2 separate regions of the Homo sapiens genome follow, and region 2 is linked to region 1. The links come from fine-mapping of genetic effects on gene expression. A gene starts in region 1. The other region holds a variant in brackets. All regions are shown on one strand. Distances are from middle to middle. Region 1 holds the start of C11orf87 (chromosome 11 open reading frame 87). Region 2 has its middle 46 kb from the start of C11orf87.

Region 1 (5,374 bases):
ATTATCAGCGTTATTTCTTCTTCCGAGACTTTCCTCGCCCAATATTTACAAATACCGCACAGTGCCTCGGCGGAGGAGAAACAAGAGTAAGGGGAGGGCAGGTAAGGAAACCAGGAAGAGGAAAGAGGGGCCAGAGGAAAATGGAAAAGGAAGGAAGAAGGAAAAAAGCAAGGGTGGCAAAGATGCTGGAAACGAGGACGGGGAACGAGAGGGGCTAGACGATCAGGACAGTACCACCGTTTGCAAAAGGCCCTCGCCAGCTGTGTCCAAACAGGAGGAAGCTGCGTGTGCTCCTTGGGGACTGGAGGCTGGCGGTGGAGGCGGAGGAGCACAGGGACCCTGGCACGGGAGGCCAGGGGACGAAGAGGACAACGACGAGGCGTTGGAAGGGGCGCAGAAGGGAGAGTCCCGGGGCTGCCTCTCCAGCCGGGTTTCCTTTGCGTGGGTTGGGGCCTGCCTGCCAGGTCGGGGCAGCCCCCCGCCACCGCGGCTGCCGCTGCAGTGATCCCGCTCATATTCCTCCTGAGCCCTCTGCATCTTCCGCTTCTTCATCCTACGCTTGTGGATGTGGAAAGTGGAGAGGGACAGCACGATGAGGCAGAAGATGAGGGTAACCAGGACAATCAGCACCAGCGTGGAGGAGAAGGACTGGAAGAGCTGCTGTCCCACCTGCGTGATGCAGGTGCCGCTGCCTACTGCGCCTGGGCCGCGGGCACCCGTGTTGCCGCTGCCGCTGGCGTTGGGGGAAGCAAAGGTCCGGTTGAGGAGACACGGCGGCAACGCCAGCCTCAGCTCCTTCGGCGCCCTGGCACTCATTGGCGCGGGGCTGGGAGGGGCCAGGCCCACTAGGCTTCCCCTCTTGGGCACACCGTTCCTACCAGCCAAGAAGAGGACGGAGCCCACGCCACCCAAAACTGCTCCCTGTAGCGGGAGGGGGTGTGCGAGCGAGCCAAGGACTAAGGGAGCAACTGCTGGCAAGCAAGGCGACCAAGGAGTGAGCGGCGCCCGAGAGATCCTCGCCGATACCACCTCGAACACGTCTCCACGCTCCCCTTTCCTTTGCAGAGGCACCAGGCTGCAAAGACACAAAGCTTAGTTAGAATCTCGGCCGCTGCCCAGGGGAGTGCTGTCGGGAAAGATCAACCACCACCGCAAAGCGGCCCTCTGGGCACACTGCCTGAGCTGGGCGCTGCCTGTATTTTCGGTCAGCGGACCCCAGCCTGCCGGCCCGTGGCCGTGCACCAGAGCCACCAGCAGCCTGCTCATGCCACTCGACAGGATGGGGTCTGCGCCGGCACCGCGGAGGTGCAGATTACTCAGCAGATAAGGCAGCCTCCCTTCCGCCCTTCACAACTTTATAATTGCAACAGACACGCAGCCGCTTTGGTTGAAGTCCCTACTTCCCAGAGCGCCGGCTCTCCTCTTTTCTGCGCCCTCTCGGTTGATGTCTTCGCCTGGATCCTACCCTTCCCAGCACCCACTCCGGGCCGCCGCGCGGGCTCCGGGTACGCAGTCCTCCCTTCCTTTCCCTCCCCGTCCAGACTCGCCCTCCCTGGACAGCGTCAGATCCCTTGGGTCCCATTCCCAGGGGGATACCCCTGGCACCACATCCCACTCTGCCTCTGTCCGCGACCGCGGCTGACGCGCAGGAACGCGCTCCATCTCTTCTCCAGCCTTCTTCCCTGGTATTCTCCCCTCTCCAAAAAAAAAAAAAAAAAAAAAAAAAAGCAGCTGAAGCATCTTTCTCAGCTGACACATTCCCACAAACGGCCCCCTCCTCCCCATTTCCCTGTGCCCCCAACTTGGCAGTAGCCTGCTTCTTTCTAGAGGAGCTGGAATGGAAAGGGGAGGGTTCCCGCCTGCAAAGTTTGGGGAACGGGACCTTCTTTCTGTCCTTCCCAGACCCAGCCCAAAGGCCCCGAGGCTTTTCCGGCATACTGGAGCCGGTAGACCCGCAGCGCACAGGAGAGCCTCCTTGCTGCTCCCAAGAGGCAGCTGCAAACTGTTGCACTGCGGAGTAGCGAGGTAGCGCGCAAGCAAGCCAGGGCAGGGGCCGGGGGCAGGGGCGGGGGCTGGAGCTATGGCCAGGGGTGGCTGCTCAGGCCGCGTGAGCTGTCCTCCCCACTCGCACCTGGCCGTCAGGCCACCCGGCCATCAGAAGCCTTTACTCACACCTTGTCTCTTACCTGGACCGCCGGCTGGCTGCAAGGAGGGAGCCCCCGCCGCGCGGCTGCAGTGGCGGCTGCAGAAAGCGTGGAGTGAATGGACCAGAGACCGAGCCGCGCTGCTGCCGCCGCCGCCGCCGCCGCCGCCGCCTTCGCCGCCGCTTCAGGGAGCTGAGCTCGCAGCCTATTGCCAGAGAGGCCGGTGACGTCAGGCAGCCACCGCCAGGGCTCCAAGCCACCCCTCAGGCCCCCACCCACCCTAGTACCCCAACACCTTGTCCTAGCATAGCGAGCCTCTGACACACACTTCCCAGTTCCCTGCCCTTCTCCAGCCCAGGAACTAGGAGGAGCAACCCCTACCTCCACCCTGCAAGCAACCCACCTTTCTCACTCTCTTGCCTAGGAAGAGTTGAATCTTCAGTTCTCCAGCTGTCTGATTTCGTTCTAGAGCTGACCCTTTGGTCCCAGAATCACATTTTTACACTCTGGATAGCCATCTACCATCGGTGCACACATCACCGGTGGTGATGAAAATTTCCCCCACCGCTAATTCCTCTCTGTGCTGCCCGTTTCTGAACATAAACTGCGTGCATTAGAGAGATGGCAGGGACGTTTCTCAACATAAGTGTGACAGAACCCAAAACACAAACCTGAACAAATTAAACAATCCAAATTAGCCATTTTTCTCCACTGGAGTTTCCAAGTTATCTTTCGCTCCATCTGATTCAAGATCCTCCTTCTTGCATCCCTCACATCTTCATCTCCAGGCCCCAGACCCACTCAATGTATTAAACACTCCTTCTATTCTGACAATCTAGACACTCATGAGCACACAAACCCTAGTCTTACAAGGAAGAAATATGAAATTATTCACAGGAAGGCAGAAATGAACTGCCTTATGAAAATTCCAAGTATTTGTAGCTTGCACAAAGTACCCCTTCATTGACCCTAATTCTTGGTAAAGTGTTTGGAGCACAACTTTTAGCAAAATACATAGAACTTCCAGAAAAGAATTCAACAGCCTCCCTAAATCTTGGAAGAGACTAGTTAACTATTGGTTTAGGAGCCTTGGAAAAATATGAATAGTGCATTTGGTTACAGAATCCAGCTTTGAAATGGAGTATGCTCATTTTTCTGTTGGAGAAGCTAGCTGGGAACAGTACCTAAAGACATTGCATGGTCTTTGAAGGCACTCAGGTGTCTTACTAAACGTGCGTTTTCTTCTTTGCTCCCTGTCTTCTTTTCTATCTTTGAGTCTAGCACAGTGCCTGTAGTTTACTTGATAAATTGAATGATACAGTGTATGTTGTTGCTCTTTCCTGCAATGCATCAGAAATGACTGATGCCCAGTTATCTGCTTGTATTTGCTGTATTTGTAAAGAAAGAGGGTCTGATATGTGGAGGAAAGGCTGTCTGTAATCTGGGGGTCCCTTCTTCGGACTCTGTGTTTAGGGTCATACAGTTACTGATGTCTGCCCCCCGCCCCCACCCCAATGCTAGCCTCACCTTCCTGACTGGAATGAGAGCACCAGATGCCTGCAATAGCCACCTGCCACATTTGGACAATTTGACTTTGGTGGGCTTAGGGGATGGAATGGTGAGCCTTTTTATTTATTTATTTATTTTTTACGCTGTGACTAAGTGACACTTTACCATTGATGCCTGACAGGCAATGTCCCATTTTTTCACACTCGCTTTGCTCCTGAAAAGTTGAGTCTAATAAACATTTTGTAAAGCAAATCCAATTTTGGATTCTCCAAAAAGAGATCTGGCTATTTCAAGAGACTCTTTAGCAAAAAATAAAAAATTTTTTAAAAAATGTTATTTTGTAAAGCAAAGAATTTTTATGCAATTAGAATTAACTCTTGGCCAGGCACGGTGGCTCATGCCTGTAATGTCAGCACTTTGGGAGGCTGAGGCAGGTGGATCACCTGAGGTCAGGAGTTAGAGGTCAGCCTGGCCAACATGGTGAAACCCTGTCTCTACTAAAAATAACAAAATAAATAAATAAATAAATAAATAAATAAATAAATAAATAAATAAAAGCCGGGCATGGTGACAGGCACCTGTAATTCCAGCTACTCGGGAGGCTGAGACAGGAGAATGGCTTGAATCTGGGGGACAGAGGTTGCAGTGTGCCAAGATTGTGCCATTGCACTCCAGCCTGGGCAACAAGAGTGAAGCTCCATCTCAAAAAAAAAAAAAAATTAACTCTCAGTCGTCTGTTTTCTAGATTTGAAGGAATTAGTTATTGGGCTTTCCCTATGGGGAATATACCTTTACAACATGTTGTAATGGGATTACAATATGTATGTAATGGGATTCTTCTTGCACACCAAGCTTCTAGGACATGTCAGAAGGCTTCCAATGTTATTCTTTTGTTACAAATGATAGCCATCTGTTATACCAGGAGTGCTAAAGCTGTGTGCATTATTTTATACACCCTATGAAAAGACAAGATCTTAATCTGGAGAACTTATACTCTACAGCAGATAAATGTGATTCACCAGAAAATGGTATTTAACTAGCAATGATTTAGGTAGATTAAAGACATTAGTTTTCAGATCAAAAGCATAGTACCCTTTTTTGTCTTTTCTCTTTCAAGAATAGGCAGTAGGTTCATAATTTATTCTTACCCAGAGGACAAATGTACTAAATACGTAGATTTGGATGTCATTGGGTAGTGTGTTTTAAACCCAAGGAAGAGCAATGACAGCAAATATGGGCACCTCTTGGACTGCAGGAATTGATCCCACTGAGTTGCCACATGATTTTTGGCACATCTGGCTGAATGGCAAGGCTTCTTCCAGACAACACCATTGTTGCCACTATTTTCGCCACCAAACTTCACAAGCCACACTCCCAAGAGTAGAGAACCAAGAAGCTCCTGAGATTCCTATAATCTTCCCTTGTAATGGGAAAGCCCCTCTGGACATAAGCATGTTCCAAATATTTAAGAGCATTTAATATTTGCTTTCAAGTTTAATGAAGAATCTCGATCTAACTTAGATAAAAGTGCCACATGGGCACCTGTACCTAAATCTAAGCAGCATTGAATCAATAATAATAATAGCTATTATCCTTATTTGCAAAACACCTACTATGTACCAGGCTATAGTAAACCCTATATTAGCATTAATCCTCTCTACAACCTCGTAAGGTTATTTTTGCCAAAATACAAAATTATTCATTTACTCATTTGTTCAACA
Region 2 (5,374 bases), 46 kb after region 1:
ATCTTCTCCACCCACCCTTTCCTGCCTAGGTTAAGTGCAGAGTGATGTTGCAAGATTAACTGAGATAGGGGTTGGGGTGAGGGGGTGTTTTTTCATTTTGTAAGAAACCAGTTTAACATCTGGTCAAAACATGCAAGTTAGCACTGACTCTATGTATTATACCACATATTGTGTCAGATTTTATGGATTTATTTCTCCAGCTGTTGGGAGTGCTCCTGAAAGACAGCTCTCAGCTGTTTCTCTCTTTGGGGACTGCCTTGGCCAGAGATATCTGCCTTACCCAAGGTTGTGCCTCTTTACAGGACCATCCTGAACCCAATCATAGTGGGGATATAAAAGGTGCAGGGGCTGCCTGAATAAGAGGCTGATGTGGTGGTCACTGGAGCCTTGGGACCCGTGCAAGAAAAGAGTCACTAGAAGGAAGCACGGTGCCAGGAATTACACTGATTTGTTTTATAATTCTGCATAGGACTGGGCCTGCTGCTGCTGGAAATGGAAATTTCACAAACATTGAACTAATCTCCTTTCCTAACCATATCTTGAAAGGAGTCTTCTATTTGGGCTAAGAGGTGAAAATAAGGAGGACAAAAGGTCAAAGAAGGGCCAGCTATTTAGGGTAGTCAGAGAGAGAACACATGAAACATTTCAGCTAAAATTGGACAGAAAGAAGCAGCAGTTAAAAGTCACTCTGTAGGAAATTAGACCAGAAGGTGGACTTAAAAGCCCCAGCTTTTCCTCTGTGGAGTGTCACCTTTCTGATCCTTTCTGAACAAAAAGGAGAACAGTGAGTTTTCTCTCAGAGATGGCCAGGAACCAGGAGTGGGTGTTGTGGTGTGCGATGTTGCTTCGTGCTCAGGATAAAGGCCTGTGCCCTTGGCCAAGACAAGTGATGGGTCAGGGTGGGAAAGAACTGCTCCACATCCATAGATTTGTATCTCTAATTATTTTTACACTCACTGGGATTTAAACCTTTGCTTGGAAGGATTATTGTGTACCTTATTTTGTTTAGAGTACCTATCTGCTGAGCCAACATTTTGGAACATCAGGTTGAGGGTGTTGACATGAGACAGGGCTGAGAGTGAACACAGAGCCCCAGAAATACAGCCCCTGGAAATAAAATATCACCATGCCCTGTGAGTATCAGTGCCCGGCACAGGAACTGTGCCTTATAAATTGTTGCAGGTCGGGTTCCTGGGGAAGCAGACTCTGAGACAGAGATTAGCATGCAGGATGTTCCTTACAGAGTGCTTTTAACATCAACAGCTGTAAAAGAGAAAGGATGGAAGCTGGCTTGGGCAGATGGGGAAGTTAAGAGAGTTCCCATGTGGAGCTCTGGAGCTGGCATGGTCCTGCAGTTGACATGAGTTGGAAGGATGGGTCCACCTTCTGGTCTAATTTCCTACAGAATGAGTTAACTGCTGCTTCATTCTGGCCAATTTTTAGCTGAAGTGTTTCATATGTTCTCTCTCTGACTACCTTAAATAACTGGCCCTTCTTTGCCCCTTTGTCCTCCTTATTTTCACCTCTTAGCCCAAATAGAAGGCTTCTTTCAGGATCTGGTTAGGAAAGGAGGTCAGTGCAATATATGTGAAACTTATATTTCTAGCAGAAGAAGGTTCAGTCCTATGCAGAATTATAAAATAAATCAGCGTAATCTCTGGCCCTAAGCTCCCTTCTAGTGACTCTTCTCTTGCCCAGGTCCCAAGGCTCTGGTGACCACCACATCAGCACCTTATTCAGGTAGACTCTCACACCCTCTGCACTTTCCTGCCTCTCTTTTGCCCATTAAAATCTTCCTCCTTTTGCCCCATTTACTTGGCCCCTGGTAGGCTCCTGGAGGGCTATTTACAGATGCACTTGACTGGGGTGTGACTAGGTCACATTGTTTTCATATCTTATTCCTCCCTCAGGGCATTTGTGTTTTCATGTCAATTTCCAAGAATGGAGGAACAAGTAGTGTTAGGGTCTCATGAAATCTCATGAAACAAGAAAGGGCCATTTGTGAGCAAGGTAAACTTTTTCCATTCTGTAAATCATGTTGATAGGACCATTTCCCTCACTCATGACTCTGACCCACCTACTCCAACCAACCTGAGCAAGGAGAGAAGGACCTCTTCCCTCCCATCA[C/TCAC]TGCATGGCAGTGCAAACGGGCTAACCAATGCTTCCATTCCCATGCATGGGACAAAGTTACTGAACAGCCAACTCAACCAAGCTAACAAAGTGATGAATTCATTTCATGGAAATAAAATCTGACTGATTTGACTAAGCTGACAGGTTTGTTTTTGTACTATTGGAAAATTAACTTACCTTTTTTCTTTTCCCTTTTGTTTTCTATATTTACTTCTAAAAGACCTACTCAGCATACACTATGAGGCTTAATTAAAATAAGCTCATAACAAATCAGTTGTAGACAATACAAAAGCCTGAAGTTCCAAGTCTTTGCTATTGTGAATAGTGCCACAATAAACATACGTGTGCATGTGTCTTTATAGCAGCATGATTTATAATCCTTTGGGTATATACCCAGTAATGGGATGGCTGGGTCAAATGGTATTGCAGCACACCAACATGGCACATGTATACATATGTAACAAACCTGCATGTTGTGCACATGTACCCTAAAACTTAAAGTATAATAATAATAAAAAAATAAAAATAAAAGCCCGAAGTTTCCCCAGGGTGATAGAGGATTTGGCCTCCCCTGCCACCCCTGCCATTTACACCCTCAAATCTTCCTAAAGCTGTGCTCAGCAAGGGCTCTGGGACATACAAAATCAAAAGAACAATTGAGGAGATGCAGGACTGGGAAAGAGAGAGACAGACATCTTTATCAGTCTCACAGAGAAATGTACTCAGTGAACCAAAATGAACCTGACAGAAATCAAAGGAAGAAGAGTCTGCAGCCAGGATTGTGAAGACCCAACATTGGGGTCCCAGGCAGAATCCACACCCACGCAGTCCCCATGAAAATAGGCTTTGGAAGGATCTTCCCAGGATTGCAGGTCACATGCTAGCTCCCATCCACCCTCAGTCATCTCTAAAAGGACAAACACAAGTTTCCACAAGTCTAATTAATGTGATGTGGCAGCTTTGCCTGCAAAATAAACACCAATCCCTAGAATATCAGTTAGTGAAAGACGCTGGTCACCTTGCTTGGTAATGTTCAAGTTTGTTTTCCACATTAAATCTTTTGGCTTTTCTCAAACAATAATTATAACAAACACACATATAGCTGATCTAATTGGAGCCAGAAGGAAGCAATCAACGTGCTTAATATACTTTCCACCTCTTCATTCCAAAATTGCTTTTTCTCTTTCCCTTTTTTTTTTTTCATTTAGTTCTAATGGTGTATCTATCCAGTGCTCACCATAAGTCTTTTGCCAAAATTTTTCTGGCCATCTCTTGGTTGTTTGTAGTACGTTTCTTAAGAAGGATTCATGAAGCAATTACTGCCTAAATTCTTTCAAAACTATTTCCCTATAATCTGTACATTTGAATCCTAATCACTCCTCTGTGATCCTTTCTGCACTTTTGCTCTTCACCTGCCCCGGTGCAGGTGACTACTATCTGGCCCTAGCCCTGTTGGAGATAAATTCTTTTCACAGCAGCATCAGCTTAAATTTTAACATCTGTACTTTTAGGTTTGGTTTCTTTGGGGAAGCATTGTACAAGTTCTTCCTGAAGTCTGTTGCCATTTGGTGCCCTGAGTACCTTGGCAGTTCTTGCCCAACTCCCCACCACACCCGACACAGCTTCCCTCACAGCTCTGCCTCGTAGATGCTTTTGGCTGCCATTATGCAATATTTGGAGCTTCCAGACTTACGTGTCTCCTGGTTTCACTGAAAATAAAGTTTGTGTATATTACATATTAAATATTTTATTTAATTCTCTTTGGTTTTATTCCCTGAAGAAGAAAGGAATGGAATCTGAGCTAACCTACCATGTTTGTACTGGAAGTCCTGCCAACAGCATTTAAGGAGGCCTGGTAAGAGACCTTTACCCACAAGAGCACTCTGCATTGTATTACAATTACCCAAATCAATAAACTCTTCTCTTGGAAGGTATGAATGTTAGCTGCACAGAGAAAGACAGTCAGTCATTCAGTGGAGCAAAAAGTCAAAGCAAGGGAAAGAGACTTGGAGAGAGAAGTGCTGACTCAAGAGAAAATGAGCTGCCAGAGGCACATTCTATCTCAAAAACCTACTCTAATTCTTTGTAGGGTCTTACCTACTGCAATAAATTCTTCAGCTATCTTGCCTTCTAGAATTATTTCATAAAAACACATCACTGTGGCTCAGAACCTGAATGAGTATATCAAACTCAGCATCCACAGCCCTAATAGTAACTGGATTTTCTTCCTACTTCTCTAAGTAGTTTGTGCTTGCTTCCTTGGTTTCCTCCTCCCGTTTTCTTTAATAGAAGGCAATGGATATTCTATCCTCAGCCCTTGGTAGCCTCTTCAGTTTGCATGTGCTTCAACTTAGGCAAATGACTCAATGCTTGACCCCAGCTCCTGCTTCTCTTCCATCATTTATTTGCAATCCCCACTGCCTACTGCAACTCACCAGTAAGGTCTTCCCAGCAAACCCGACTATCCCCAAAGTTAAATCCATTATTTCCTTACTCAATATCCCAGCCTGACTTTGGTGTCTATTCTGATTATTTTATTTCCCCTAACTCTCAAACCCCACCACAGGCAGGTTATTACTGATAATGACTCTTTGGGGAAGAGATTTATAATATTTACCAATATCTGCACTCCCTCCTCCCTCCTGTGCACATACCTGGATTTTATTTTCCAGCCTCTCCTGCAGTCAGGTGTGACCAAAGGAGTATGAGTGAAAGTAATGTGTGCCTCTACAAAACCTGACGCATATGAAGAAACAAACCATCCATCCACACCTGATCCTTGTCTTCTCCATCTGCCAGCTGAATGGAGAGAAACAAAGAACTCCTGCTGACCCACACTGGACTATGACATGAGCAAGAAGCACACTTTTATTATGTTAAGCCACTAATATTTTGGGATTATTTGTTAGAGCAATGGAATCTATCATGATGAATACATTTTTTAACATTCTCATATCTTTTCTTTTTTTTTGGCTAAAATTGATCCATATTCTGCGTACTTGCTTTTGTCACTGAACATCATGTAAATTTTTCCAAATCTATTAGTATAGAGGCTACTCATTCTTTTTAATAGGGGTGTAATAATCCTATATGTATTGCAGTATATATTTAATATGTTATTATATTCAATAATTATGACAGATGAGTATTTCTTTGTTTTTAGATTCTTACTTCTATAAATGATGCTGCAATAAATATTCTTATACATCCCCATGTGTGTTATTAACACAACTATTCTCTTGATAAC

What was found.
Region 2: its variant is fine-mapped to the expression of C11orf87 in lung (TOPMed, PIP 0.98).

The regions. Positions count from the first base shown.
Region 1 is chr11:109,419,076-109,424,449 of GRCh38, reverse strand. It overlaps C11orf87 (chromosome 11 open reading frame 87), which reads right to left and starts at 2,260. Exons shown (of 2, transcript NM_207645.4): 1 at 2,187-2,260; 2 at 1-1,075. The coding sequence starts at 816. The coding sequence ends at 223.
Region 2 is chr11:109,373,011-109,378,384 of GRCh38, reverse strand. No RefSeq gene overlaps it. Among named protein-coding and RNA genes, the nearest start is that of C11orf87, 46 kb to the left of the region's middle. The variant C/TCAC (reference allele first, on the strand shown) is at 2,128.